Homo sapiens: one gene and its partners. The protein of the gene in region 3 interacts with the protein of the main gene of each other region in a pairwise test. Each region holds a gene or a part of one and is shown on either strand. Other genes may lie near its edges. The genes, in order: PIH1D2, FXR1, TCEA2 and HSF2BP.

What was found.
Region 1: the proteins of TCEA2 (region 3) and PIH1D2 interact in binary tests that used the Homo sapiens proteins (3 or more experiments, as listed by UniProt).
Region 2: the proteins of TCEA2 (region 3) and FXR1 interact in binary tests that used the Homo sapiens proteins (3 or more experiments, as listed by UniProt).
Region 4: the proteins of TCEA2 (region 3) and HSF2BP interact in binary tests that used the Homo sapiens proteins (3 or more experiments, as listed by UniProt).

Annotation. Positions count from the first base shown.
Region 1 is NC_000011.10:112,066,008-112,071,479, forward strand, and holds the end of PIH1D2 (PIH1 domain-containing protein 2), read right to left. Parts: intron 5,277-5,472; coding exon 5,031-5,276; intron 4,695-5,030; coding exon 4,429-4,694; coding exon of another isoform or gene 4,420-4,428; intron 1,999-4,419; coding exon 1,864-1,998; 3' UTR 1,791-1,863; downstream 1-1,790.
Region 2 is NC_000003.12:180,914,728-180,923,479, reverse strand, and holds part of FXR1 (RNA-binding protein FXR1), read right to left. Parts: exon of another isoform or gene 8,485-8,752; intron 1-8,484. UniProt on the Homo sapiens protein: mRNA-binding protein that acts as a regulator of mRNAs translation and/or stability, and which is required for various processes, such as neurogenesis, muscle development and spermatogenesis.
Region 3 is NC_000020.11:64,065,620-64,074,021, forward strand, and holds the end of TCEA2 (transcription elongation factor A protein 2), read left to right. Parts: intron 1-627; exon of another isoform or gene 628-713; intron 714-786; exon of another isoform or gene 787-856; coding exon 857-919; intron 920-1,295; coding exon 1,296-1,401; intron 1,402-2,427; coding exon 2,428-2,515; intron 2,516-3,741; coding exon 3,742-3,872; intron 3,873-4,145; coding exon 4,146-4,202; intron 4,203-4,640; coding exon 4,641-4,795; intron 4,796-4,869; coding exon 4,870-5,016; intron 5,017-6,250; coding exon 6,251-6,322; coding exon of another isoform or gene 6,323-6,406; exon of another isoform or gene 6,407-6,552; coding exon 6,553-6,561; 3' UTR 6,562-6,728; downstream 6,729-8,402. Other genes in the region: RGS19 (regulator of G-protein signaling 19), read right to left, coding at 8,234-8,402. UniProt on the Homo sapiens protein: Necessary for efficient RNA polymerase II transcription elongation past template-encoded arresting sites.
Region 4 is NC_000021.9:43,647,743-43,656,494, reverse strand, and holds part of HSF2BP (heat shock factor 2-binding protein), read left to right. Parts: intron 1-8,752. UniProt on the Homo sapiens protein: Meiotic recombination factor component of recombination bridges involved in meiotic double-strand break repair.

The DNA of each region.
Region 1 (5,472 bases), on a different chromosome or scaffold from region 3:
ATTATATTTGCTTTTAAATGTCATGTATCAGTTATTTCTGTTATACAACATTAGTTTCTATAGTTAAAAAGTTTTAAAAGTAGTAAGAACTTTGGCCTGCATGTTGAACTAGAAACTTTATTACAAGGATAATTAAAGGAAACTTGTATCTAGAAAAGATAATTAAGGGATGTTTAAAGTCTGCATATAGCTTACTTGATGTATAAATTGGATAGTTGGTACCTTTGTATTTCAGAGCTTAGAAGAGATGAATGTACATCACTTTTGTACTTCTGATCATTTCTTTAGGGGAAAAGCACTTGTCCCAATGTCAACTACTTTTTTTGTTCAAATATGAGATATATTTTTGCAGGCCGGGCGTGGTGGCTTACGTCTGTAATGTCAGCACTTTGGGAGGCCAAGGCAGGCGGATCACCTGAGGTCAGTTCGAAACCAGCCTGGCCAACATGGAGAAACCCTGTCTTTACTAAGTATACAAAAATTAGCTAGGGGCGGTTGCGGGCGCCTGTAATCCCAGCTACTCGGGAGGCTGAGGCAGGAGAAACGCTTGAACCCAGGAGGTGGAGGTTTCAGTGAGCTGAGATTGCGCCACTGCATTCCAGCTTGGGCAACAAAGCAAGATTCCGTCTCAAAAAAAAAAAAAGATATATTTTGTTTGCTGTTACTATGTCATTGTATCCAATCTATCGACAAGTCTATATATGATACTAAAATGTCTGGCTGGGTAGCTGGGTCTCCTGGCAGAGTTGTTTAACTGAAGTACAGAGGTTAGGGGCTGAGTGCCATGGCTCACGTCTGTAATCCCAGCACTTTGCGAGGCTGAGGCAGATGGATCACTTGAGGTCAGGAGTTCAAGACCAGCCTGGCCAACATGGTGAAACCCTTTCTCTACTAAAAATGCAAAAACTAGCCAGGCGTGGTGGCACATGCCTGTGATCCCAGCTACTAAGGAGGATGAGACGGGAGGATCGCTTGAACCTGGGAGGCGAAGGTTGCAGTGAGCCGAGATTGTGCCACTGCACTCCAGCCTGGGCAACACAGCGAGACTCAGTCTCAGTGAAGTACAGAGGTTAAATAGGCTTGAATATTATATTTGACCCTGTATTTTTATTGTTGGAGGAGACTCACTGATATGGCCCATCCTGATAATAAAAAACTTCTTGCACAGTCTGGAATTTCTTCCTGATAGAAAAATTTACTAGAGACTTTTTCAAGCAGTAAACCAAGAGTTCTCACTTGTTACTTGGAAACAATTAGAATTTTCCCAAATTATAAGTTACTTAAGATATTTTTAAAACAAGTGTGTCATAGCAATAGTTTTTAATTCTGGTTGATGTTTATTTGAGAAGAAGTGAGTTAAAAAATATAAGACATGGCCAGGCATGGTGTCTCATGCCTGTAATCCCAGCACTTTGGGAGGCCGAGGCAGGTGGATCACCTGAGGTCAGGAGTCCAAGACCAGCCTAGTCAACATGGTGAAACCCCGTCTCTACTAAAAATACAAAAAAATAGCTGGGCGTGGTGGTGCATGCCTGTAATCCCAGCTACTCGGGAGGCTGAGGCAGAATCGCTTGAGCCCATGAGGCGGAGGTTGCAGTGAGCTGAGATCGTGCCACTGCACTCCAGCCTGGGCAACAAGAGCGAAACTCCGTCTCAAAAAAAAAAAAAAAAAAAAAAAATATATATATATATATATATATATATATTTGACATAACAGGTGAAGAGAAAATCTCAGTCAAAATGAACTTAGAAAATAATGGAATTGGTGTTTAAGATAAACTACTACCTCTTTAGCCAAAATGAAGGTCCTTTAATTCACATGACTTTAGCACTGAAAACCCAAAACATATGATGCTCTTCTTTCACACCAAAGGCATTGTGATGATTAGCGTGGATTTTTCTTTGATAAATTTTGCTGTGGTCATTTCAGTATCAATAAGTTTTGGAAGATTCAGATGTAATCTGTACTTCTCAGATACTTCAATCAATAAATCATCCTAAGAATAATAAACCAAGAGATTTATTTCCTGCTTAAAATTTGGGATACTAACTTATTGTTCCCAGTTATTCACTCCTTTGCCATAAAAAGATCCCATTTGTTGCCATGTGACTTGGAATGAGCAAAAAATTACTGTTGTAAATCCCTTAGATTTTAAGGTGGTTACTGCTGCTCACTACATCACACGTTAACTGATACAGTACCACAGTAGAGTGTTGCCATCCTAAATTATGTGGCTGACCAGCAAACAGCAAGGAAACTTATTGGAGCCTGGAAAGGTAGTGATCCATGTTTCATAATGATGAAGCCTTTAGTGAAACTATCACAGTAATTTGGATGATAAATACTCTGTGCCTAGTTGATTTGTGGCTTTAGGTGAAGAAGTGGGAAAATAGATGGTAATGTGTTGGTTCTGTTCACTACATTTAACAGGATATTACAAGAAAGATGAGCTTAGAATGGACCATTTTGCAAGTCAAATTAAAAGGGAATTGGCTGAGTGCGGTGGCTCACACCTGTAATCCCAGCACTTTGGGAGGCTGAGGGCAGGTGGATCACTTGAGGCCAGGAGTTCGAGACCAACATGGGCAACATGGCAAAACCCCGTCTCTACTAAAAATACAAAAATTAGCCAGGCTTGGTGGCACATGCCTGTAATCCCAGCTACTCAGGAGGCTGAGGCAGGAGAATCGCTTTAACCTGGGAGGCAGAGGTTGCAGTAAGCTGAGATGGTGCCACTGCACTCCAGCCTGGGCAATAGAGTGAGACTGTCTCAAAATAAATAAATAAATAAAAAGGACTTTATAGAGCCCCAAGATTCCAAGACTCAATGACTGAAAAGTGGAACTAATTTTTATTTTCAGCAAGTAAGGGATAAAATTGAGAAATTACTTTTATCAACCAAGCTGATTAAGGCAATATAGAGGCAAAGATTAAATCTTTATGCTCTTTGTTAAAACCTCTGAATTTTTTTTGTTTTTTTTTTTTTTTGTTTTTTTTTTTTTGAGGGGAGACAGAGTCTCGCTCTGTTGCCCAGGCTGGAGTGCAGTGGCTCGATCTTGGCTCACTGCAACTTCCGCCTCCCGGGTTCAAGCAGTTCTCCTGCCTCAGCCTCCTGAATAGCTGGGACTACAGGTGCCCACCACCACGCCCGGCTGATGTTTTTTTTGTATTTTAGTAGAGATAGGGTTTCACCATGTTGCCCAGGCTGGTCTCGAACCCCTGAGCTCAGGCAATCCACCCCCCTTCGGCCTCCCAAAATCCTAGGATTACAGGCATGAGTCACCGTACCCAGCCAAAACCTCTGACTGTACTAAGGTGGACTTCAGTAAATCCTTACATTTGGCTAAAATGACAGCAATTAAGTCTAAAGAGACAGGTAAGTCTTGAAATATGGGCAATGTCTAAAAAGGAATTATGGGTATCACTGACTGGAATCAAAATGCTACCAGCCTGGACTAAAAGAAACTGCCTTCAAAATTTAAAACAATCCTTTGAGCCCCAAGATTCCATGAGCAGGAACCAGGCTGAAGAGGCTACTTAGCATATAAGAATGGCACATTCTCCGATACTCTTCAGATGTGGCCAAGGTGGATAGTGGGAAAGGGAAAAAAAAAGAAAACATCTTCCTGAAGACTGAAGCTAAAGGTCGTGGAAAAAAATGGAACTGGGGAGCTAGGTAATTACAGAACTTTCTCAAGGAACCTAAGTAAGAACATCCTCTACCTCCAGAAAAGGAGCCCTCACAATGTCTGCCTACTAGGATTTCAGAATTGCTGTGCACCAGTAACTGCAGTGTGCCTCTTATTTTTCCCATTTCTGAATTGAGATGGTTAATTACGGTTATCTTCTCCCCATTCCACATTGCATGACAGATGGGACTGAGGGAGTACATAACTTTTTTTACATGTCTTAGTCCATGGTTCAAGAGGAAGAGAAAGCAAAATTCTGTCCTTTGGAGTCTGATACTGGGATTGGAGGTGTTTTCCTTCCAGAAAGAAGCAAATATTTGCAACCAAGAGTGTAGACTGGTAGACTGTAGGACTGACTCTAACTATTTGCTCTTCTGTAAGAGGATAGTACGTTTACCCTGCCATATGACTTCCTGTGACTGTGAGAATACACTTCTCAGTCCTACTGATGTAGAACTGGCCTTGTGACTTACTTTGGCCAGTGGAGCGTGAGTAGAAGTGATATCATGAAGTGTCATGTCTGAGTAGAAGTATTACGATCCACTGCATGGTTTGATCATTCTATTTTCCCTTTGCTGAGATGTGAATGGCACATCTCAGAAGGGAATTGCTCCTTCACCGGGTAACCTGAGCAAATCATTGTAAGCCCCTGAAATTATGTAGTTTGTTACTGTGGCATAATATATGTTAGTGAATGCTGGCCAATACAAATTTACAGTGTTATCTATTCAACTTACCTCAGAAACACTAAGGTCACAGAGAGAGACAGAATTAATACCAGGTAATTCAACTTTCAACTCAATTTTCAGAGGTTTCTCACTGTGATCATGCACAATTTTTAGTTCATAGGCTGGCATCTTCATCTCCACCTGGATTTCAGTACTGGAAATCTCTTCTATCAGACACACTGCTTTGCCTGAAACTTGGTCTTTTGGCAGTAACAGTTGAGGAAAGTGATCTGGATTGCTCATAGTACTGCTTCGTATCTGTCCAAGAGTTAGTTCTTTATGAAAAAAAGGGTGGAGGGGAGATAAAAAATAAATCTACAACATAAAATACTATGAGCTATAATATATGTGGTGTTAGTAGAGATGGTAGATAAAGCTGCAGTTAAATTAGTTTGGGAATCAAGCCAAAAGAATCTTAAACCAAAGAATTTGATTGAAAATTTTTCAGGATTTAAAAATCAAGGATATGATATTTCTAATATTTAATATTTGCATTTTTCTATCTTAAGTTTTTCACCTTTTAAAATAGAGATTTCTAGTTTGCAAAATGTATACAGGATCCAAAAACATCTTAAAGCAGTTTAATTTTCCATTTACAATCATCAACTTACCCCTTCTCATTTTTTCTCTTAAATCTATGGAATCAGTTTGGATTCCCATCAGATTTTGTTTCATTCTTTGAATGCTTCCTTTTATTCTAAATTTGGTAATATGGTAAGAGTGTGAGAGGGTGAACTGGAATTTCTCCTCAATGCATTTCATGGCCATCTGAATTAACTGATTTTTTTTCACTTGGTCCTTTTCTGCTGCATGAAGAACATCAGGATTGTAGGCAACATCAATGACTGTGTAAGCATCTGTGTGTGTAATTGAAAGGGTATGAAATGAAGAAAAATTGTTGCACTAATGATACTGTCAGGCAATATATTAAACCATATTCCTGATAAAGCTAGAGAATATTCCTGTATTTTTCAGAGGTAATCACAGTAGTGCTACAGCAATTATGACATTTCTTGGCACTTTTGCATGGATTAAAACAGCTCACCTTATTAC
Region 2 (8,752 bases), on a different chromosome or scaffold from region 3:
GGTTTCACTGTAAGGTCTCAGATCCCACTACTTACTGTGTATAACAAGAGAGGATCCAAGACAGTAATGTAAGGAAAATAAGATCCCTAACTGGCCTTATTTGCCAAAAAGCAAATCACAATGTTCCCTTCTCGAGATCTCTGTATGGTATTCCCAGGACACCCCAGACTCTTTGGAGTAATTCTCAGGAGGGTCTATCAATCTGGAATGGGATCCAGCCCTCCAGGATGCTGAGCATCAACCTCTCATCCCAATCCTAGAAGTGAGGGAGATACAGCTAAGGAGAGACACACATGCAAGAAAAACAACTTTCAAACAGAGATGATTAATACATGGCACTAGCATAACTGCCTATACATACAAATATGCAAAAATATTAACGTACTATTTAAATGTAAAAATAAAACTCCAAAGTAACCTAAGAAATTGTATGTATAATCTGGGCACAGACTGTCTTAACCAGGACTGGAAACCCAGAAGCCTTAATGGAAAAAAAAAATTATGTTAAAAACTAAAATCTCACTATGACCAGCAATATAAGAAAAGAAGTTAAAAGGATGGGGAGGCAGGGCACAGTGTGGCTCACACCTGTAATCCCAGCACTTTGGGAGGCCGAGGCAGGAAGATCACTTGAGTCCAGGAGTTGGAGGCCAGCCTGGGCAACATAACAAGACCTATCTCTACAGAAAATTTTTTTAAATTAGCTGGGCATGGTGGCACATGTCTGTAGTCTCAGATACTCCAGAGGCTGAGGCAGGAGGATCGCTTGAACCTGGAAGGTCAAGACTGCAATGAGCCATGATCCTATCACTGCACTGCAACCTGGGTGACACAGTATTATTTATTTTGAGATCCTATCTCAAAATTAATAACCTAAATAAATAGGTGGGAGAGTGGACACTCTTACATCAGGTCAGAGGCTTAATATCCATAATACAGAAAGATTTTCAAAACTGACAAAGGACACCCCAACAAAAAAATGGGCAAAAGACAGGCAATTCTTAGAAAAACAAAATCAAATGGCAAACAAAGGCAAGTCTTAAAAGAACAAGTTCAAATGGCAAACAACATTAAAATTCACAACTGGGATCAAGTTCCAATGAGATATCCCTTTACATCCAACAGACTGGCAAAAATTAAAGATCATAAAGCCAACTTCTGGCCCAGATAAAAAGAAAAAGCTGCCATTTATTATTGATGGAGAACACAGGAAGCATCAGAAGCCTTTTTGGAAAGCAATCTTTCAACATTTATTACAGTTTTTTGTTTTTTTAAAGGTTCCCTTTCACCAAGCTATCCCATTCTTTGATATCTATCCAATGGAAATAGTTATGTGGAGCGACAAAAAACTGAAAACAAAGTGTATGTCTATTAACTGGGGAATGGCTGAATTTAATACATTGTTATGATTATATAACCTTAAAAAATAAATCATACTCCACATGAAAATAGTTAAGATGTGGATGATCCTATTTTTATACAGTAATACTGAAAAACCCTATACTTGTAACTGAATGCGTACCTATATACAATTCTACGAGCATAGTGAAATATATGGAACCACGTATATGTGCTACAAACAAAGGTTACCTAATATGGAGGCGGAGGTGAGAGACCCAGGTGGTGAAGAGCAACCAGGGGAAAAAAAAATACAACAGACTAAGTTTTTATATCATACTTACGTGTGTGTAAAATTATACACGTGTCTATGTAAACGTATACTTTTAAGAATTAGAATATATCTTATTGTCAGCCAACACGTTTTCCATACAGCACGTATGTGCATCACCACTCCCCACTTCTAATTTTTCCATCTCTAGGGATCTCAAATTTATAAGATATAAACTTATAAGATGCTTACCACAACTAAAAGATCTAAGTTGTAATTTGATTCCAACAAGTACCAAATAGTCAAGGCTGCTACTGCAATCAAAAAAATGTCTTAACTTCAAACAATATACTTTTTAAAAAGATCTACGCAACTAAATCTACAAAGTAAAATTATTCCAAATCACTAGATACTTGTTCCACAAATTCAAAAAGTCTGCAAATTTACCAATTACATTATACATTACAATAATTATTACAAGTTTTTTTTTTTTTTTTTAGATGGAGTTTCTGTTGCCCAGGCTGGAGTGCAGTGGCGTGATCTTGGCTCACTGCAACCTCCACACACACCCCCACCCTGGGTTCAAGGGATTCTCCTGCCTCAGCCTCCAGAATAGCTGGGATTACAGGCACCAGCCACCATGCCCTGCTAATTTTTGTGTTTTTAGTGGAGATGGTTTCACCATGTTGGCCGGGCTGGTCTCGAACTCCTGCCCTCAAGTGATCCACCCGCCTCAGCCTCCCAAAGTGCTGGGATTACAGTCAAGAGCCAGCACGCCCAGCCAATTATGGAGTAAGCTCTAATAAGAAAAAAAAATTATTCAAGGCAAGCATTCAGCATTCATTAGTATTGAGCATGTAACTGTTCTGAGTTTGAAAAAAGAAAAAGGACAATGAGGATGTGAAGATTTCTTTAAGAATACACAAGTGTCTACTACTACTGTTTACATACCAGTAATGTTCTTGGCTTGTTAGGTTCACCCATTTGTATGTATTATCTAACAGTTCTCTTTGAAATGGAATAAGTTAACAGTTCCAAATGGCCACCCAAAACTATTCTGGGCCGGGCATGGTGGCTCACACCTGTAATCCTAGCACTTTGGGAGGCTGAGGCAGGCAGATCACCTGAGATCAGGAGCTCAAGGTCAGCCTAGTCAACACGGCAAATCGCCATCTCTACTAAAAATACAAAATTAGCCGGGCGTGGTGGTGCATGGCTGTAATCTCAGCTACAATAATTACTGAGGCACAAGAATCGCCTGAACCTAAGAGGCAGAGGTTGCAGTGAGCCAAGATTGTGCCACTGCACTCCAACCTGGGCAACAGAGCTAGACTCAAAAAAAAAAAAAAAAAAGAACAAAACTATTCTGACTTTCTCGTTGCAGAGTTTAAGTTCTATACAGTTCCCTCTATGCATGCATAAAGTTTTGTGACAATATCTGAACTTGACCAAGATCAAAACATAACTTCTTTAAAAAAATCATTTAAATTCAGTTTGAACCAAAATCAGAAATGATGAAGTTAGCAGTTACTAAGATTACACATCATTCAACAAATATACACTGAGGGCTTACTATGAACTAAGTACATATATCAACAAAATTTAAGACTTGAAAATAACCTGAAAAACTGTAAAAACAAAAAGGTTACATGAAAAGGGAACCAAAAACAGCTACCTATGATTAATTATGTAGATTAAGAAAGGAATTCAGGAGCCTCTGAGGCTCCTGATCTGAAGAAATCTCAACACGGGAGCGCATCCCTTTGCCAACAATAATAAACTTCATCAGCTATTTTACTAATGGAGACCTCTGTTCATCTTCCCAAAATAGACAGCAAAAAACGCTGAAGATAGAGAATGGCAGGCAAGTTAAATACACTGATAGCATAAATTATCTTGATTAAAAGAAGGAGGTAGTGGCTCATGCCTGTAATCCCAGCACTTTGGGAGGCTGAGGCAGGAAGATCATAAGGTCAGCAGTTTGGGACCAGCCTGGCCAATATGGTGAAACCCCATCTCTAATACAAAAATCAGCCGGGCGTGGTGGCTGGCACCTTTAGTCCCAGCTATTCAGGAGGCTGAGACGGGAGAATTGCTTGAACCCGGGAGGCAGAGGTTGCAGTGAGCTGAGATTGCGCCACTGCACTCCAGTCTGGGCAACAGAGCAAGACTCCATCTCAAAATAAAACAAAATGCATGAAAAGAAATAGATAATATTAATTTCAATATTATTTAACCTAATATACCTAAAATATTATCCAACATGTAATCAATGTAAAAAATTATTGGCCCGGCGCAGTGGCTCACGCCTGTAATCCCAGCACTTTGGGAGGCTGAGCCAGGTGGAACATTTGAGGTTAGGAGTTCGAAACCAGCCGGCCAACATGGTGAAACCCTGTCTCTACTAAAAATACAAAAATTGCCTGGGCGTGGAGGCACACAGCTATAATCCCAGCTACTCGGGTGGCTCAGGCATGAGAATCACGTGAACCCAGGAGGCGGAAGTTGCAATGACCCGAGATAGTGCCACTGCACTCCAGCCTGGGCAACAGAGCAAGACTCTGGCTCAAAAAAAAAAAAAACAAAAATAAAAAAAAAATAAAATTTAGGTGTTTCACATTTTTTTTTAATTCTAAGGCTTTGAAACCCAATTTGTATTTTACATTTAAAGCATGTCTCAATTCAGACTAGTACATTTCAGCTCCATGGCTGGTGGCTACTATATTAGAAAGCAGATTTGTCTAAAGCAAAGGCATAGCTCAAATCATTTCTCTGGGAACCTCCCAATTTATTCCTCATAATTCTCCTCATATTAGTAACAATTCAAAATTAGTAATAATGTGGCAAAACATTTGTACTTCAAAAAATATTGCACCATAATGGTTAAAGAAATTGGTTCTGTGGTGTCAAACTTTAGAGTCTGAATCTTGAATCAGCATCTAACTTTACAGACCTGGATTCACTTAGCCTCAGTATTCTCAAATAGTGGAGTTATCTACTTCACTGTGGTTGAAAGGATTAAATGGGAAATTCGAGTAAGGCACCTACAAAGTCTGGTAAGTAGTCTGGGTACTCAATGAAAATTAGTTACAGTTGCTAGAGGTAGATGGGACTGCCATCAACAGAAACTAGCAAAGATTTCACAACTTATAAATAGGTTAAAGGAAATACAACTGCTTCATACTGCATATGAAAAAACCAAGGTGTTTACCTGGATGATCCTGCCAGTTAAAAACTATTACAAGAATTAGGGGTCAATCATGGAATGAATGCATATTGCTCTTCCCACTACAAAAAAGCTAATTTGACAACCTTAAACACTGTGATAGAGAACTTATCCAGAGTGATAATCCAGCAAAGTATCTGCCCTTTTCCTCCTAATGAAAATGTAAGCTCACTATCCTAAAAGTTACTTTGAAAAATCCCTAATGCTGGCCAGACTCAGTGGTTCATGCCTGTAATCCCAGCACTCTGGGAGGCCCAGATGGGAGTATTGCTTGAGACCAGGAGTTTGAGACCAGCCTGATCTAAATAGCAAGACCCCATCTCTACTAAAAAATAAAAATTAAAAAAATAAAACCAACCTCACAGAGTTCTTGGGAAAAGAAAATCAGGAAATACATATAGAAGCTTAATACATAATCTAGTAAAGAACAGGCTCTCATCTTAAACTATTATCTTACAGAAGGCACACAAATATCTGACATAGAAAATAACAGGTACATAAAAGTAAAAATACGGAAAAATAATGTTTTCTGGAAGTATTTAAAGCCAGGGCCTTGACAGTATCTCTCTAGATAGGTAAGATGTGCTTTTCTGCTTTCATATTTTTCGTAATTATGTGTTGCTCTTCTAATACAAAACACAAAACTTTACAAGAAATATATGCATTTAAATTGACTTTTTTTTTTTTTTTTTTTTTTGGAGACAGAGTCTCACTCTGTCACCCAGGCTGGAGTGCAATGGCATGATCTCGGCTCACTGCAACCTCTGCCTCCCCGGTTCAAGCGATTCTCCCACCTCAGCTTCCCAAGTAGCTGGGACTACAGGCGCGTGCCACCACACCTGGCTAATTTTTGTATTTTTAGTAGAGACGGGGTTTCTCTATGTTGGCCAGGCTGGTCTCGAACTCCTGACCTCGTGATCCACGCACCTCAGCCCCACAAAGTGCTGGGATTACAGGCATGAGCCACGGCGCCCGGCCTAAGTTGACTTTTTAATAACTGTGATCACCATCAGCAAGATAGAGTAGAAAATCCCAGCCTTCCTTCCCCTCCACGTTTTGCAACTATCTGTGAATGAAAATAAAAGCTGTTGTGATCATTTATTTTGACATCCAGTTAAATCTTCATTACTTAGCATTTTAATGAAAATTATCTTTTTAAATATGCAAAACAACCATTTTAAATTATCTGGAACTATGTATTTTTAAATTAACAGGGTGGCCTAATATTAAGACAATTATCGTTTTTTCAATTACAAATCTCCACAATGAAACCAACTAACAAGATTCTGTACTAACCTTGAAAAGTCAGCATACCCTCTGAACGCAACTTTTTACTATAATTCTATTGGTCATCATTATTAATATATCTATGCATAATTTAGATTACGCTCAAATTCCACTTAATATTAAATCAAGCTAAACAGGGAATTATAGAAATATAGTACTTTGAGATTTGTTTTGTAGACAGTTACACGGTGGAAGCAGACAGCTCTAAAAGTAATTAACTCTGGCCAGGCGCGGTGGCTCACGCCTGTATTCCCAGCACCTTGGGACGCCGAGGCGGACAGATGGAGGCCATCCTGGAGATCGAGAACATCCTGGCCAACATGGTGAAACTCCGTCTCTACTAAAAATACAAAAAATTAGCTGGGCGTGGTGGTGCGTCCCTGAAATACCAGCTACTCAGGAGGCTGAGGCAGGAGAATCGCTTGAACCACTGAGTCAGAGGTTGCAGCCAGCCAAGATTGCACCACTGCACTCCAGCCTGGTGACAGAGCAAGACTCCGTCTCAAGAAAACAAAAAAATGTAACTCTACCTTCTGCAGAAAGTGACTGAAATCTCAGAGCTTACAGGTTCCCTTCGAACATCATGGAAACTTTCCTATGAGCCAGAAACTGAGTGACTTACTTCCAACTTCTATTTAAAATTATACTCATGGTCGGGCGTGGTGGCTCACACCTGTAATCCCAGCACTTTGGGAGGCCGAGGAGGGCGATCATTTGACGTCAGGAGTTCGAGGCCAGCCTGGCCTACACAGTAAAACCCCGTCTCTACTAAAAATACAAAAATTAGCCGGCCATGTTAGCACATGCCTGTTGTCCCAGCTACCTGGGAGGCTGAGGCAGGAGAATCACTTGAACCTGGGAGGTGGAGGTTGCAGTGAGCCGAGATCGCACCACTGCGCTCCCACCACTGTGCTCCCACCCGGGCAAAAGAGCAAGATTCTGTCTCAAAAAATAAAAATAAAATGAAATTATACTCAGCCCAAGGCCATACAAATTGCAATGCTATTACAAAGACTAATATATATTTATACATCAGTTAAAAAGCACTTTAATGATGCAAATGAGCCGGAGGTTTCTGTGGGGTAATGGAACGTTCTGAAGGAAGACTGTGGCGGTGGTTACACAACTCTGTAAATACACTGTCATTCAACTGTACACTTAAAAAAGGTTGTTTTATAGAATATACATTCTACCTCATTAAAACTTTCTTTTTCAAGACACCTTAAATGTCCAGTAGTATAAAACCTAAGATGCTACTTTAGGTATGAGAAGTACAAAAGTACAAAGCCTATAATGTTATTTTATATAACAGCATAGCCCACCAACAAATGCTTAATTAACATCTTCCCATTCTCTCTCATCCCCGCAGATTTATAGGGCTACGAACATGCACAAATCAAGTTTCTAATATCTCTAACTATAGAGCCACTGTTAAATGCAGAACAATGTATTTAGCATGCCACCATTTGTGTACATACTATTTTTTAAAGGCTACCCTAATTTTAGGTAAAATATTCAGATCTTCAGCGTTTCACTGGTTCCAATTAATTTGTGAAATGAAGTTTCAGTTCTACTACAAAAACTTTAATCAAAGTCTACAGAGTACTGCCTCAAGGCATGATAACTGACTTTGAAACTCATCAATGGCAATTCACACTTACGGCCAAATGTGTGTCTTCTGCCTATACGGGGTAAGAGGAGGGGAAAAAAGGGAAATTCAGATCACCTGTACATTGAAAAACCACCAAAAAAAACCAAAGAAATACACTAAAATGTTAACAGCTCTCATCTCAAGGCAACTTCTAGTTTTTGCTGAGTTCCAAAATTACCTCAGTGACCATGTATTATCTTCTAAATTGGAAAAAAACTAATTAAAATTAAATTGCTTCTACGCTAAATGGAAGCCGGACTCAAAACACTACACAATATAGTGTACGATTCTATATACGTAACGTTCTGAATAAGAAAAACTATGGGGACAGAAAACACTCTAGAAGCTGGGGTTGAGGAATGGTTGACTGAAAAGGGCATGACGGAAATTTGGGGGCTATGAATCTTGATAAATGCTGACACCACCACAGTTAAAGTGACAGTTAATCTTGATAATTGTCAGCATTTATCAAGATTCATAACCGTACACCAAAAAAGGCTTATTTTACTGTATGTAAATTAACATTAACTTTTACATTCTAATGAATAAAAAGCAATAAACTTCTGTGCAATAAGCCAATGGTTTTCAAGTCAGCAGTTTAATAGGATAAAAATATACTGGGGATCACAGAACTACTTCAAGCCCCTCATGTTAGACAGAGAGATTTGTTCAGGGGTCCATTGTTAGATAATGGTAAGGTGAAGTACAGACCTAGAATTCTCATCTGTTTACTTCAAATCCAGGACTCTTTTCCACTCCGCCATTCTCATTCTTCCAGAGTTCTGAAGACCACAGTTTCCACAAAGTGCATATGCAAGTGGATTATGGCTGGACATAAAATTCCAAATGTTCAAGCGTACATGATTTCAGTGCACACACAGGTGGCTAGTGTCCTTTCCAACCTTTGTCAAAGTACCAACTCACTTTGTGAGGCAAAATGAGTAATGGAGTCAAAGTCTAAGTAGAAACAAGCAGTAGA
Region 3 (8,402 bases):
CCCTTGGGGAGCACTGAGTTGCCGGGCCTGGTGTGGAAATGTGACCGGTTTGTGCCTGGCCTCGTCAGTGTTGAGGACCTGGAGGAAACGCAGATCTTGGGTGGGGAGACAAGGCGGAGAGAACGAGGTGCATTGGAACAGTCCAGGCGAGGGGTGCTGGCCTGCTTGGGGGCAACTCAGAGGCCTGGAGGATAGATGAGGAGGGGGGCTGTGGGCCTTGTAGGTGTTGGCTGTGGCCGTGCCTGGAGTGGAGGGACCCTTGAAAGTTTGGCCTCAGCTCGGGACACTGATGTTCCCGGGTTGGCCCTTCATGAGAGTTTGGCCTCAGCTCGGGACACTGATGTTCCTGGGTTGGCCCTTCACAGCTGGTGGGCGGGGGGTGCTTTGGGGAGAGGCTGCCCTGCGCATCAGGGCATCAAGACACAGGGGAGTGAATGAACCTGGGGCTGCAGTTTCACCTGGGTGTGGCCCTGGCTGCTGGGGAGGGGCCGTGGCTCTGAAGCCTCATGATTGGCCAGGGGAGCTGGCATTTCTGTTCTGGTTTGGGTCAGTGACCTGAGGTGGTTACAACGAAGTCAGTGAGGTCATTGCCACGGATGTGGGTTACAACTTGGAATGCTTGAGGCTGCAGAACCCCTCCCCTTCTTGACTGAGCAGTAAGGGTTCCCTGCTGTGGTGCAGGAACATGTGGGCAGAGCCCTGGGTGTCTCCAGGTAGAGGAATTTTGGTTTCTTTTTGACCCCAGGTTGAATCTCCAAATTGTCACTGCCTTGTGTTCTCCTCCAGTAGGCAGAAGGAGGTGATATTGTCTGTTGAGATCTAAAGTCCTTTATGAAGGTCCTCCTTCTCCTTCCAGGAGGGAGCCATGGATTTGCTGCGGGAGCTGAAGGCCATGCCTATCACGCTGCACCTGCTCCAGGTAGGTCCCTGCCTGCCCCAGGTCCAGGACAGCTCCTGGGTGCAGCCCAGGGGATGGCAGTTCTGAGGGCACCTGGCAGGGCTTCCCCACCCTCCCCACCAGGCCTTAGTTGGCACAAATGCCTGTTCCTGAGGAGAGGGTCTCTGCCTTTCTCTGGGCTCAGTGGGACAGGGAGGGGAGTCTGAGGATAACCCATCTTGTCCTCCGTGGCTGAGGCTCCTGGGTTCCAAATGGGACAGTCGCCATTGGGAGAGGCCTCTACCTCCCTGGGAGGTCCCGGGCTCCTGTCCTGTGGGGGCCACCAAGGCTCTGCCAGGAGAATCTGACCCCTAGGGTGGGCCCCTGCCTCCCCCAACCCAGACCACTTGCCTCGTAGTCCACCCGAGTCGGGATGTCTGTCAACGCCCTTCGGAAGCAGAGCTCGGATGAGGAGGTCATTGCACTGGCCAAGTCTCTCATCAAGTCCTGGAAGAAGCTCCTGGGTGCGGCTCAGGCGGTGCCCACTGAGTGCTGGGGCAGGGGTCCCAGAAGTGCTGCCTCTTGCTGGTCAGCACAGTGTAGAGTGCTGGCAGTGTCCACCCTGAGCCAGGTCGCTTGGGAGTGGGGCAGTGGCAAACCCAGACCATGAAGCGCCCAGCTTGGGGCTGGCAGTGGATCAGTGGGTGCCTGTCAGCATTGGCTGGGAGGTGTGGCCTAGGAGGCCAGGGTGTGTGCTGGGGGCAGGGTTCCAGGTAGAACAAGGAGAGAAGAGAGTTGAGGCCAGGACTTGAACTGACAGCACTGAGAGACTGGGGTGAGTTGGGAGGTCACACAGAGGGGAAGGTCATGGCCAGGAGGCTGGGAAGTGCCGGGAGAGGGGAAGCGGGAGGGAGAAGGCAGGGCCACCTCAGCTACTCAGAGGGAACAGAGGGGCAGCCCCCTGCCAGGGAAGGGAAGGGCTGGGCTGGGCTGGGCTGGACTGAAGGCTGCCTCTTCCTGGAGACAGTGGGGTGACTGGGGTTGCAAAGATGCTGCTGTCTGGGATGGAGGCAACCCTCCTAGCTCTGTCCACACCCTTGTGAAACAGTCTCTCTCCAGCCCTGTGTGGCCCTCAGGCTGTGCATGGCACAAGCATGTCCTGGTCCCCAGCCCTTGGGCCTGGCTCTGGGCTTTCAGGAAGAGCCTTCTTGGGGACATGCTTGGTCTCTCTGGCCAGGACAGGCAGGAGGGTGGGCCCCAGAGAGGCCCCAGAGGTGGCCTTTGTGAGTGGGTGCTTGTACGGGAAAGGGTTCTGGGGAGGCAGCCTCAGGACTGCAGAGATGGACAGGTTGCTGGGGAGGGTGAGGACCTGTTCACAGAGGCTGGGCAGCCTCCTGGCCCCTGGCTCCCCTGGCTGGGTGAGGGGCTGGGGGCGGGGGCTGGGGCTGGGGCCGTGTTGGTGGTCGGGCTGAGGCTGTACCTTGGTGGTGGTCTGTGCCCCTCCCTCCTCTGCCTCCCCTTGATCAGCCCATCCCCGATCTTTCCTGCAGATGCTTCCGATGCCAAAGCCAGGGAGCGGGGGAGGGGCATGCCTCTGCCCACGTCCTCGAGGGATGCCTCAGAGGCCCCGGATCCCAGGTAGCACACCTGGAAGGCAGGTGCACACACTTCTGCTTCCCAGCCTGTTTCCTTGCCAGAGAAAGGGTGCCAGTCTCCATGTGCCTAGGCACTGCTTTGAGGCTGCACACAGAGTCGGTCAGCCTCATGCTGGACACCAGCCTTGTGGTGTGTCCCGCCTGCACTGACCACTTGAGATGTGGGTCTGTGTCCACCTGGCTGTCAGCCAGCCATCCTGGCCTCTTCCTCTGCCAAGAGCTGCTGTATACCCTGAGTGGGCCTGTGGGAGCCCCCTGGCCTCTTCCCCCAAGGCCCCCTGCTGGGTCTGGTTCTTGCTGGCCCACTCTGGCTTCCCCCTCAGCCTCACTCAACGACGGTCCCTCCTTCCTGCAAAATTCTGCCCAGAACCAAAGGCGGGGGCCAACTCCCCTCCTGCCCTGCATGTGCACGTGTGGTCACTGCTGCCAGGGGGTGATAAGGGCTCTGTGGCCTGCAGCTGGGAGCTGGGGGTGCTTATTGTGGCAGGCTATAGCCGAGAGATGGCTTTGCCCTTGACCACACTGGGTTGTGGTGACTGGGCCACCAGGAGCTCAGGGACACCTTTGCAAGTTGATTTTCCTCCAGGAAGCTGCCTGCTTCTGCCAACTTCCACAGAGGGGATGAGGGGAGGGCTAGGTGGATGCAGCCTGGTCGTTGGGCAGCCCCATGTTGGGGTCCAGCCCTGAGGGGCATCCTTCTCCCATTCTGTACGTGCCCAGGGGTGTCGTCTGTGACAGCAGAACCTGGCCTTGGGCGGCCCCGCCTTGTCTCCCCCCAGACAGCTGTGGGTCTCTCCCTCTCCCTGACCAGGCAGCAGCTGCAGCTGCCCTCAGCAGAGTATTTGTGTTGCGGCCCAGTGGGTGGGCACCCCAGAGGTGGCAGGAACTGCCAGGTTCATTCTGATCGACTGGTAATGCTGCCCAGATGCTGACTGCTGGGTCTGGGATCCTGTTCCCACCTGGAGAGTACACCCTGACCCACTGGGGACCTCATGGCCCTCTCCCTCCTGGCTGCTGGGCACACCCCATGGACATCTGGGCTGGACTCAAGATAGGCAGGGCCACAGGCCACTGTTGGACTCTGGCAGAGTAGAACAAGCAGGGGTTGGTGGGGGATTATGCTGTGGCACCTGCTGCTTCTAGGACCAGTGTCTCGCTGGGGTGCCTGCAGCCTTGAGTCTGAACCCAGCTGGCCCTGGCTCTCTGCAGCCGCAAGAGGCCGGAGCTGCCCAGGGCACCGTCGACTCCGAGGATCACCACATTTCCTCCGGTGCCTGTCACCTGTGATGCCGTGCGCAACAAGTGCCGCGAGATGCTGACCGCTGCCCTGCAGACGGACCGTGAGTGCGGCCGGCCCTGGCTCCTGACACCCGCTGTGGTTCACAGGGTGGCCCGGGCCCCTGCCTGCCCGCAGAGGCCTGCTTCCAGCGGGGTGACTGTCCTCCCCCAGCCCATTGCTGTGGCCCTGGCAGGGGCTAGGGGCCTGTGCCTGGATCGTGGGCCTCTTGCAGGGACCCGGATGTGCCCTCTAAGCTGCCAGGGTGTTTTGCAGGCAGAAGGGGTGGCAGGTGGAGAAACCAGTGGGGGAAGCTAGTCAGGGCTCCCTCTTGCAGATGACCACGTGGCCATCGGTGCGGACTGCGAGCGCCTGTCGGCTCAGATCGAGGAATATATCCTTTGGGTAGGGGCTGTGGGCCTGGGTTTCTGGTGGAGTCAGGAGGCTGCCTGGCCTGGTGCCCTCTGGTGGCTGCTGGATGCCACTGCCCAGCTGTCCAGGGGTCACCTGCCTGGGTGGTCACCTGCCTGGGTGGTCAGGCTGTCTCACCTCAGGAGGGCCCCCGGACCAGCTGAAGGGCTGATTCTGTCTGCTTGTGGGGCCTAGGTCCCCTGGGGCTGTAGCCTGAAGCTGGGTCTCAGTCAGGAATGGGCCTGGGGCAGGCTTGGCCCTGCAGCCCTTCACCTCTCCACCAGGTGTGGGTGGGCAGACCGACCCCTGTGTGGCTGGGCAGAACCTTTCCAGCCCCCACCCCAACATGGCCCCCAGCGGGGCAGGTGGTAGGTGGAGGGCAGCGACGTTGTCCTCAGGTGGGTCCTTAAAACACTTGCACGCATCTTCCGGGACGTTGGAAACACAGACATGAAGTATAAGAACCGTGTACGGAGTCGTATCTCCAACCTGAAGGATGCCAAGAACCCTGACCTGCGGCGGAATGTGCTGTGTGGGGCCATAACACCCCAGCAGATCGCTGTGATGACCTCAGAGGTGAGCCCCTGTTGGAGGGGCTGGAGGGCTGCTCCCTCGGAGCGGTGGGCTAAGCCACTGGCCCCGTGCTCCAGGAGATGGCCAGTGATGAGCTGAAGGAGATCCGTAAGGCCATGACCAAGGAGGCCATCCGAGAGCACCAGATGGCCCGCACTGGCGGCACGCAGACAGACCTGTTCACCTGCGGCAAGTGCAGGAAAAAGAACTGCACCTACACACAGGTGAGCGGCCGCTGGGCACCCTCCCCCGGGCCCGGTGTCTTCAGGGCATCTGGTGCCCCTCCTTGGAGCCCATGCCTATTCCCGCCTCTGCTGCATGAATTTCCCGAGCCTCTCAGTCCCTGAGTAGGCTAAGGCATGATGGCCACCTTCAGGGACCACTCCCCTCTACCCAGGACCTCTGGGCTCCACGGGGCGGCGTCTTGGGTGGTGGGACCCACTTGTTGCGGATACTCAAGTCAGAGGGCCTGGCCTGGCCCAGCCCAGCCTGAACGGAGGGCCCTCGAGGTGTTGATGTTGGTGGGAGGGCCGTGCTGCCTGCTGCCTGGCAGTGACTGCAGGACCCTCAGTCCCTGCCATGGAGGTGGACACTGAGTGTGCTGGGGAGACTGTGGATCCCATGAGATGGCAGGGACCCTGTTAAGAGGGGAGTGCGGCTGGGTGCAGTGGCTCACATCTGTAATCCCAGCACTTTGGGAGGCCGAGGCAGGCGGATAATGAGGTCAGGAGTTCGAGACCAGCCTGACCAACATGGTGAAACCCCGTCTCTACTAAAAATACAAAAATTAGCTGGGCGTGGTGGCGCATGCCTGTAATCCCAGCTACTCAGGAGGCTGAGGCAGGAGAATCACTTGAACCCGGGAGACAGAGGTTGCAGTGAGTCCAGATCGTGCCACTGCTCTCCAGCCTGGGCGACAGAGCGAGACTCCGTCTTTAAAAAAAAAAAAAAGAGGGGAGTGTGTCGAGGCGGCCGCTGCACCTGGCAGATGGGACTCGTGAGGGGCTGCAAGGACAGCCTTTCCTTCCCCTCGAAGGCTGCATGGGGCCTGGGTCGGTGCAGAGCCTGCCTCTCTCCTGCTCCCAGCCACTGGTCAGAACAGGCTCTGCCTGTGGCCGGAGGCTCACCCTTGGGCCTTCCGGAAGGCAGCCGCGGGCACTGGGGACCCCTGCTAGTTCCCCCCACCATTGGGACCCTCTTGCCCTCAGCCAAGTCTGGGCCCTCCTGGTCCCCAGCCAATGTGAGCTGCTTCAGGCTCACACAAGGGCCTCTGCCCCGATAAACTCTGTCTCCCTCCCCCGGAGGCTCAGCTTTGGAAGGTTGGAGTCACGAGGCGGCCTCGGATCAGGTCACCTGTGGGAGCTCAGTGGCTGCGAGGCCCGCACTGCCCATGTTGAGGGGATGCCGTCTGCAGCGGAGCATGGAGGTGACCCTGGGTTCACCCAGCCCTGTTCACAGGTGCAGACCCGCAGCTCTGATGAGCCCATGACCACCTTTGTTGTCTGCAACGAGTGTGGAAACCGCTGGAAGGTGGGTGAGCAGGCTCAGGCTGCCCCTCCCAGCTCCATTCTCTGGAGGTGGGGTGTCTCAGCCTCTGTGGGGTCTGTGGTGTGAACTGGGGATGGCCCTGCCCAACCAGCCTCCTGGGAGTCTTGGGCATGGTGGGTGGAGAGCCCAGCCTTGGGTGAGCCTGTGCGGCCTTCCACTCTGGGGGATCTCATGTGGCCACAAGGCTGGAGGCCTCACCCCCTTTCTCGCAGTTCTGCTGACCCCTCGTGTAGATGTGCTGCAGCCTTGGGCCCTCCCCGGCCCACGTCCTCCGTTGACACAGCTTCTCTGGAGACCCTAGAAGGCGGCATGTCCTGCCCTCAACCTGCCTGCCTGGATTGCACCTTTCTGCCCTTTCCCCCTCATTATTAAATGTTTCTTTTTGCCATCTTGTTCTCCTCAGCCGTTACTCCTGGTGGGCCCCTGTCCCCCATGTTTGACCCGTTTCCACTGCTGTGGACAAGGCCCCTCCCTGGGGTTGGGCAGTGCTTGGGTTTGGCCCTGGTGGGTCAGCCCCAGGAGAGGAGCTTGGCTGACCTTCAGAGATCACCTGGGGCGGCTCTGCCTGTGAGGGCAGGTGGGGAGAGGGTCTTGTGTGCGTCCTGTGCAGGGCAGTGTCCTCCCCAACGCCTCAGGCATGGGCAGCTCGGGACCTCTCGGCACTTCAGGACAGCTTGTCCCCATGCTGCCTTCTCTGTTCTTGTGGGAGTTGTGGTCTCAGGGCCCTGAGCCAATTTCAGCTTCAACTCACTTAACTTCCCAGAAATGCAGGGGATGGGCTGGTGAGCACTCAACTCATGGGGCCTGTGAGATGAGAAAGATGACATTGGGCCTGGCACCAAGTGGCCCCTCCTGCCCCAGCCAGCCTGCCTCTGGGGACCCCGTCCGGCTGGGCCTGGGCGGCACCTCCTGTTGCCTCTCGACTTCTGAGGTGCTGTGGGTCACTGTTCTGGCCCGACTTTCAGCTAAGGAGGCTGAGGCCGAGGGCGTGGAGCTCATGCCCCGGGCAGGGTTAAGCACAGCCACCCACTGGGACCACTGTTCTGAGGAGGGGTCTGGTGGAGGCCAGGGCATGGGAAGAGGGCAAGCACACGGCTGTGTGTCCCCTCCAAGGGGCACTGGAGCCCCTGCCCTGGGACAAGGACACTTCTCCCCAGCCCTGAGTCTGGGGCCACTCATTCTCCAGTCTCTCCCCAGACTTGGACAAAAATGAGTAGAGACTTTGCTTTAAAAATATCTTCAATAATAAGACATCCTATTTTTGGGGGGTTAGGGATAGAGATAAATATGAAAACTTTTTTTTGATAAAACACCTAGTAAGGACATGTTTCCAGGTTTAAAGTTCATGAACATATAAAACAGAAATTGGGTCCTGCCACCTTGAGTGCAGGATTCTGAGGTCCTAAATCTGGTTCTGAGGTTCTGTGTTTGATTCTGGGGTACAGACAGCTCAAGTAGGAGGTCTCCTTATGTCACAAAACTACACGATGCGGAGGTTCTGTTCCCCACCAAAGGCTTGTCTGGGGCCCATTGGCTGCCTGGGGAGGAGGCCCCAGCGAGGCTCATGGGTCCAGCATGGCTCCTGGGGGGACCCCTACTCTCACCACGCAAGAGCCCCCAGCCAGGAGCACTGGGCCAGCCAGCTGCGGGCCGATGAGGGGGCTTCTGGCCCGCCCTGCACCTGGAGGCCCGCCCTGCACCTGGAGTTCCTGCTTGGCCACGGGTGGGCAGACCCAGGAGACACAGCACTCCCCACTGGGTCTAGGACCGTCTCCGCGGGTGGGGACCCCAGCCGGCCAGGCATGTGCCCTGACAGCCCTGCCGACAACAACACCTGAAGGGAACCCAGAGTCGGCCGTAGGAGGCGGCGGGGTCTGTGCTGCTGGGGGCGGCCTAGGCCTCGGAGGAGGACTGTGATGGCCCCTGCAGCAGCAGGGCACGGTAGGTGGGAGAGCTGAGGAAGCGGGGGTAGGAGTCCCGGTGCATGAGCGTGTAGATCTGCAGCTGCGCGTCGTCGAACGTGTGTGCGGACGGCTCCTGCATCTTCTTGTTGATGCCCTCC
Region 4 (8,752 bases), on a different chromosome or scaffold from region 3:
ACTCTTACAGTCCTTGTGATGATATTTGGGAGAGTCTGATGACCTAAGAAAGGGAGGTTTCCTCAGTGTAGTGACTTGGACATATGTAAGTTGGTATAAGTTGGTTGCCAGTTTTCTGAGCATCTATTAACAGCTTCTCTTTCTCTCTCTCTTCATTGGCAGAAGAATTTTATACTTTTGATAACTGAAAAGCTCTATTCTGAAAATTAAGTACTTACTGTGTAAGTTAAGGATCTTGCCAAATGGAAACCTTGCATGGAGTTTACTTGTCAGTAGAGATAGCTGGAAGTGTGTTCACTTATCTTTAGGTGGATGGGTGAGCCAGTATCTAGAACTGATTGAAGTTTAGGCTTTCTGGTGTCCATTCAGACTTTTGAGATTTGAGCTGAGCTGTTATGTTGAATACCAGTTTAGGAGCCTATTGAAGTTCCTGGACATACTCTGAGATTGTCTCAGCACTTGCTTGATTGAGGCCAAATCATGATTAAATCAGCCTTTGACGGTAAAGGCCAATTTACTGCATGACATTTGGTTGTTATCCCTCCCTGTGTGCCCTCTAGAAAAGGTGCATCCAGGGGGCCCAGGTAGCTGTAGCACTTGTCCAGACAAGAAGATAGCTCACCCCGAGAATATGAGTTTCTGGCATGTGCAAACGTATCTGGTCAGTGGGCCAGCCACATCCAGTTAGAAGGGACAGTTCTCATCCACCGTACCTTGTCCTGTTTATATTCTCTCCGAAGTCCTTGGATCCAGTCTTCTCTGCCCTGTGGTGTGCTCTGGGAGGTAGATCCCTACAGATGGGGCTCTCCTGGTTCCCTTGCTGGCTGCCAGTGGGGCTCACCAATGGAAGGCATTGCTGGGTGGAGAGAGAGGTTGGGGTGTTTCTTCCTGCTCCCTCCCTGCTTTGCTGCTGTTTTGTGGCAGTAGCTGCATCCCTCCACAACAGAGACTCCTGTCTAGAGGCCTCTTCCGTAGTCCTAGCTCTTGCTGGACTGCCCCTGCTCCTGTGGCTGTAGGGCTGTTGCTAGTCCCTGGGTACCTCGCTGTCCCTTGGTGGTTCTGTTATCTCTGCTCTCCCCTCTGTAAGTGGTCCCTTCAGAAAAGTCTCAACATCTGGGTTGATTTCTCTTTCCCACTGGGACTCTGCCAGATACATGGCGTGTCATTGGTTGCCAGAATGCCAGGTCATTGACTTCTAATTTCTCTAGTTTTGATTTCATGCTCATCCAGCAACTTTCTGAGATTAGTCATTCCTTGTGCATTTATCTTCAGGAAAGGAAGGTAAATAGGCATACACCAGTAGCAGCGTATGGCAGCCTGCTGGTTGGTTATATTCTCACTGTAAATTAATAAACTGGCATTCTAAAAAATACATCAGGGTCTCATGAGTTAGTTAACATGAGTGTCTTTAGTGATCAGTCCCGCTGCCAAAATCAAACCGAGTGAGGGCCACAAACAAATCTGTGGTCACTTGATCACAGTCTGCCTTTGGGAGATCTTATCTCATAGTCCCGGCCTTTCCCAGGCTATAGAGTCACCTTTTTCCCCATAGTCTCTCTGGCAATTCCTGCTTATTCCCCTTTGCTGAAATTTATCCTTCTCTGCTTTGCAGCCTTCCAATAGGGCTTGAGACTCAGGCCTAGGCCCCGCTCATTGCCTCACCCCATGGCTTCTCCCTAGGCAGTCTCATGCACACTCACAGCTTCAGTTACCGTCTTGATGCCAGTGGCTGCTGGATTTACTCTCTAGCCCAGAACTCTCCAAGCTCACGGCCTTGTGCCTGACTCCGACTTGGCATTTCTTCCTGCTTGTTTCATGATTATTTCAAATTCTAAATGTCTGCCCTAGCCTAATCAGTCTAAGGTCGCCAGGAACAGACCCACAGTCTGACAGAGTGAGGTTTATGGCTCTTTGCAGTGAGGAAGACCATACCAGAACACCGAGAAACTGTGGGGCATGTCAACAAAAAAGAGGATAGAGTTGTTGTAGGACTTGGAGACAGAGTGGTATTAGGTGAAGCATAAATGAAGCAAAATAGAACTGTGTCTAAAGGGACCAATATTAAGTCTGACTGCGAAGCGGACCCAGGTCCCGTTTCCTTGAAAACTACAACGTTCAAATAGACGTGGAACATTGTTCTAGAAATCCCTTACTTGAAGCTCTGCAGTAGCTGGAAATAGGGTTCTTTTCTGTGTCACAGTGACTTAGATCCTGCAGGCAAGAGTGGGATCTTCTTACTTGTATAATTTCAAAGAACAAAATTTGTGCGAGTCTGGGATTTTACAGAATAAGGCTTCTCAGTGAATAAGAAGTTAGCAGTCACTCAAAGAAGAGGTCATTATGACACTTTACAGTTGCATTGTCTTTGAGAGATATTTTCTGTTAACTTGGCACCTGACTTTATCTGTGTTTGTTATTCCAGCCTGACAGAAGTCAGGACAGACTTTTGCTTTCTCGGTGCAAGCTGATTTTTACTTCCTGTTGTCATATCTGCCTCATGCTATCTGTTCCCTGCCCCTGTCTTACACTGGCCTGCCTCAGTCTCCCCAGAGCACCAACACCCAGACTAGAGACCCAGGAGTCTTCCTTGTTACCTGTCTCTCTTCCTCACTACTCCGCATGAAACCTGTCCGCTAGTAAGTCTTGTGAGTGTTACTTCATGGATGCATCCTGAATCATCAGCCTGCGTCTGTCTCCACTGCTGTGTTCTGCCTCCTCCTGGCGGTCTCCTCACTGCCACTCTCCAGTCCCTCAGACACACTGTAGCCTGAGTAGTTTGTGGCAGTTCAATCTGATGATGCCATTCACCTGCGTAAGTCTTCAGACGCTTCTCTTTGTTTTTAGGATAAAGAGCAAAAACCTAAAAACCCCACCCAGACTCATTATCATCCAAAAACCTAAGCAAAACCATACTACGGCTTAAAAGGCTTTATATTATTGGGCACAGCCCCGGCTCAGAGTCACTGCCTAATCTGACTACCTCGACATGATCAATCTTCCTTTGAAATGTTGTCATGGTACCCTATGCTTCCTTCAGACACATGGTTTTATTTCCATTTTACTTTATAAGCTGTTGGGAGTGCAGGGCCCCTGATTTTATCTGTCATTATCTCGGCCCCTGATTTTGTCTGTCATTATCTCCCTGGCTGATTATTCGGTCTTGAGGGAGCACCCTACTGTCTCTGCATGCCCTTCTTTCTTTCTCTCTCTCTCTTCCTTCCTTCTCCCTTCCCTTCCCTCCCCTCCCCTCCCCTTCCCTTCCCCTTCCCTTCCCTTCCCCTTCCCTTCCCTTCCCCTTCCCTTCCTTTCCCTTTTCTCTCTCTCTCTCTCTCTGTGTCTCTCTTTCTCTCTTTCTTCCGAGTCTCACTCTGTTGCCCAGGCTTGAGTGCAGTGGCATGATCTCAGCTCACTGCAACCCTGCAACCTCTGCCCCCTGGGTTCAAGCGATTCTCTTGCCTCAGTCTCCCGAGTAGCTGGGATTACAGGTGTGTGCCACCACGCCAGCTAATTTTTGTATTTTTAGTTAGAGACCAGGTTTCACCACGTTGGCCAGACTAGTCTTGAACTCCTGACCTCAGGTGATCTGCCCGCCTCGGCCTCCCAAAGCACTGGATTACAGTTATGAGCCACTGCGCCTGGCCTGATGCCCTTCTTTCTAGTTTGCAGTCCTATCTCATGAAACTCACATGTGCTCCAGGAAACGTGGTGTTAACAGAAAGGAAGGATCAGATTGGGCTGGGCTGGTTCCAGGAGGTTTACTGTGGCCTCCTAAGGCATCTTTTATCTAATTTTGGCTTTTGAGTTTTTACCATTTAGCCAACATCAAGAAAAATAAAAATTCTTCTTTTTATAAGGCCTAGATCTGATGGCCCTCCCCAAGCCTTCCCACGAGCCTGTCTTCCTAGACTAATCATGCTAGACATGACTCTAAGAATAGAGCTCTACAGAGGAAATTCACGATTGTACTGTGGCAGCAAGAGCCGTTTGACATACTGATTCTTCTACTCTCCCACTAGCCCTATTGTCCAGTATCCACTCCTTTTGCTTCTAGAGGTTAATGTGCACTTCCAGTTGTTTTTTTTTTTTTTTTTTTTGATGGTGTCTGGCTCTGTCTCCCAGGCTGGAGTGCAGTGGTGTGATCTCAGCTCACTGCAACCTCTGCCTCCCGGGTTCAAGCTATTCTCCTGCCTCAGCCTCCAGAGTAGCTGGGAATACAGGCGCCTGCCATCACGCCTGGCTAATTTTTGTATTTTTAGTAGAGGCAGGATTTCACCATATTGGCCACGCTGGTCTCGATCTCCTGACCTCAAGTGATCTGCCCGCCTTGGCCTCCCAAAGTGCTGGAATTACAGGCATGAGTCACCATGTGCTTCCAATCTTAAGCAGTGACTAAAGGCAACCTGAAGGTAGGAATGAATACAGGCAGGGAAGGAGTAGACCTGATTTGAGAAGTTTCTTTTAGAGTGTGGATATAGTTTTGTTTGGATGGGCTTGGGCTATACAGTAACTTGTAAGCCAGCTAGAGGATTGAGGTGACACATCAAGTAGCGAATGGGGCTTGATTTTGACTCTAGCCCAGCATCTCCCTTTGGGAGGACTGGGCAAGGTAAATGGCAGTTTGCAATAATACTGACGAAGGTGTTGCCTGAGAGTCTTAGGGAGTTGATGGGTACTGGGGAGAGGCATGATTTGTTAGGAGGAGAAGGGGAGATATTCTAGGCCAGGGCGGTGGCATGTGAAAGTCACACATGGGATTGAGCAGGACCGATTGCAGGTTCATCAGCTAGTGTTTGATTGCTGTATGGAATAAGGATTGGGGGTATAGCAGAATTAGGGATGGAAAATGAACAGTTTATGGAAGACAATCATAGATTGTTTTTAATTTGAGATGAGAGTCAACTGGAAATTACCACATGGAAATAACCATCAAAATAGTGATCAAAATGACGTTTTTTAGGAGAATGGTTTTTATAGGTGAGTGTAGGATAGGTTTGAAGAATTGGGTGGAAGATGAATTAGAGCATTCATCAAGGAAGGTCGTGAGTTCCATTAGTGTGTGGGACTGTGGCTGTATGGATGGAATGGAAGGGACGTTTGATTAGTCTTGGTGGTTAAGTCAGGACAAAGTGTCATGATTTATGATCGGCAGTGAGAGTATGGAGATACAGGATCATCTATATACTGCCTGCTGATTAGTGTCTACAAAATGTGGACAGTAATGCTTACCTCATAGGCTATGGCAAAGCTTAAAATGAGATAAGCTCTGTAAGGTGTGTGCCACTGTGACTGGCTCATAGGAGTCCCTGGTAAATAACACCTCCTCAGATGGTGTGGGAAACTATGTGAACCCTTGGGGAAATGAAGAGAGACTCCAATTCACAGCCCAGCAGCTTAGCTTCTGGCTCGGCCATTGTCACTTCATGAGTTTGGGAAAAGTTTAGGGAGGTTCGAGTAAGACTCAGCTATGTTTGCAAGAGATGTAAACCGGGCCGGGTGCGGTGGCTCACGCCTGTAATCCCAACACTTTGGGAAGCCAAGGCTGGCAGATCACTTGAGGTCAGGAGTTCGAGACCAGACTGGCCGACAAGGTGAAACCCCATCTCTACTAAAAATACAAAAATTAGCCGGGTGTGATGGCATGTACCTGTAATCCTGGCTACTCAGGAGGCTGAGACAGGAGAATCGCTTGAACCCAGGAAGCAGAGGTTGCAGTGAGCTCAGATCATGCCACTGCACTCCAAACTGGGTGACAAAGTGAGACTCCATCTCAAAAAAAAAAAAAAAAAAAAAAAGCAAGCCTGAAAACACTATAGGAACCTCCATTTGACTTGTTAAGGTAGTGGCACTTAAGTACTTAGTAAGATATCACCCTCTGTTTTCTTTCATCCCTTCTTGTGCTTTATTCATCCAACAGTGGTGAATAAATCAGTGGGTATCAAAAATTTGTTTAAAACTAGGAAAATCCTATTTTTTATAAATAAAATTTTATGGGCCGGGCACGGTGGCTCATGCCTGTAATCCCAGCACTTTGGGAGGCCGAAGTGGGCGGATCACGAGGTCAGGAGATCGAGACCATCCTGGCTAACATGGCGAAACCCTGTATCTACTAAAAATACAAAAATTAGCCGGGCATGGTGGCGGGCGCCTGTAGTCCCAGCTACTCGGGAGGCTGAGGCAGGAGAATGGTGTGAACCCCAGAGGCGGAGCTTGCAGTGAGCCGAGATCGCACCACTGCACTCCAGCCCGGGCGACAGAGCGAGACTCTGTCTCAAAAAAAAAATTATATAATAGTATATGATGGTTCTAGATGTAAAATAGATGAAAACTGTATCTTCTGGGTATTTGTTTTTAAAATTAAGTTTTAGAACATTGACTTATAAAATCAGTAAGTACAATGAAGGTGGTGCGATGAAAACACAAATTTAGTATCAGGGATTTTGGAAGGTACTTGGATGATCACTTTCAGCATCCAGTTTGTTTTTAGTTTTGCTTGTGAAGTCGCAAGAAGACACAATCCCACAGATAAGGAGTTGCAGATGGTGGTTTTGAAGTAGTTCACCTAGCAACATGAAGACACTTTCTAATTAAACTGATATGAAGCTTGAAATAAGAGGAGTCAGATATTTTTGTTTTACAATTAAATCGCTAAGATCGAGCAATTCTTTGCTTTCCTTGATTGGCAATTGTTCATTTTGGAGAGAAATAATAAAAAAGCCATTCAGTCTGTTTAAATCTTCATTGTCTTACAGAAAACACTTTTCATGCATTATGCTGCATTTGACAATTTGGCACCTTAGTGGCAGTCAGATATTCACTGACAGTCTCAGAGGAGCTGGAATTATTTTTGTATGTTGACAGCACACCTAAAATGTTGGCCTCATTTCTGAAATAATTAAAATGTTAAATAATTTTAACCTTTTAAAATTTGTTTATATGTTTTTTGATGTTAATGTGAACCAGCCTTGTTTTGGTCATTGAAAATATCAGCAGTGAATGCGAACTAGTGTAGCCATGATACGCTGGTGAGATATTTGACCAACAGATTTTTCTTTCTTTTTTTTTGAGATGGAGTCTCCCTCTGTCACCCAGGCTGGAGTACAGTGGCATCATCTTGACTCACTGCAACCCCAGCCTTCCTGGTTCATGCCATTCTCCTGCCTCAGTCTCCCGAATAGCTGGGACTACAGGTGCGCGCCATCATGCCCGGCTCATTTTTGTATTTAAAAATTTTTTTTCAAAAAAATAAAAAAAACCCCAAACTGAAAAACAAACAAAAGGCCAGGCGCGGTCAGCACACCTGTAATCCCAACTACTTGGGAGGCTGAGGCAGGAGAGTCGCTTGAGCCCAGGAGGCAGAAGTGACAATGAGTTGAGATCATGCCACTGCACTCCAGCCTGGGCAACAGAGGGAAACTCCATCTCAAAAAAATTTTTTTAATTAAATAAATGAATGATGAGCAAATGAGGCAAACAAAATGTTAATAGTAGGTAAGTCTGGGTAAAGAGAGATAACAGGAATTTTTTTTGGCATTAGTTTTTGTGAATTTGAAATTACTTCCAAATAAAAATTGTAAATAACATTGTAAAATGGAGATATTAATTGAATGTTTATGGGACTGTAGTTGTTCCCCAGGTACTCTTAGATTCTTAGCAGTAGGATTTGAAAACCACTGCGCTATGTGATTTCTAAAGTGTAGGATATTTTGAGATTAATTTCCTGAGAGTTTGATACGGGGTACCCCCATTTCAGTTCTGGGAAGAATTATTTGTAGTCTGTAGAAATAAGAACTTGAGAAATATCCATGAAGAGTAGAACCAAAGAGTCAGCACCAAAAAAGGATTATTACTTTGACTCGGAGTTTATTGTGGCCCAGATAAAAGAACATGAAGAGTGTGTCACATCCATATCCTGGCAGGGAACAAAAGGAGTAAACGGAGTAAAGTGAAGAGATTAAAGTGTGATCAGGGTTGGGGGAACCAGTGCCTGGAGAAAGAAGCATCCGGGAACTAACGAGTGGAGCGCCATTGCCTCCCCTGGGCTGAAGGAGCAGAAGGGAGAGAGGTACCAGACGTGGCGAGAGGCGTTGCTCCAGACAAGATGCTTGACAGCACCTGGGACCTCACCCAGGAGGATGAAGCCCAGCAGGGAGGATGGAGTGGGGAGACATGTCCCATCCTTGGTCATCTTCTCTAGTCCTCCAGTTTCCTGCGGGGCTGCTATTGCATCCAACAGGAAGCCATAGGACGAGGGAGCCTTGTTACTGTGGGTCTTCACATCTGCCTCTTGGGGCACAGATCAGGGTGGAGATTGTCCAGAACATAGGAAAGTAGAGGGAAAAAAAACACTTGGGGAGCTTATGGACAGAGAAGGTGGCAAGGTGGTCAAGATGGAGGCGGAAGAGGTGTGTGGTGTTTTAATATCACCCGTGACCGCTCTGCTGTTCATGTCATATATGTGTGTCAGTGAATGAAAAGCAAAATTCCCTGACTCTGGTTTGGGAAATCAACAGAATTAATTTGAGTTCAGCAAGATTGATTTTAGTTTTTTTTTTTTTTTTTTTTTTTTGAGATGAAGTCTTGCTCTGTCGCCCAGGCTGGAGCGCACTGGCGTGATCTTGGCTCACTGCAACTTCCGCCTCCCAGGTTCAAGCAGTCCTCATACCTCAGCCTCCCGAGTAGCTGGGACTATGGGCGTGTACCACCACGCTGGGCTAATTTTTGTATTTTTAGTAGAGATGGGGTTTTGCCATGT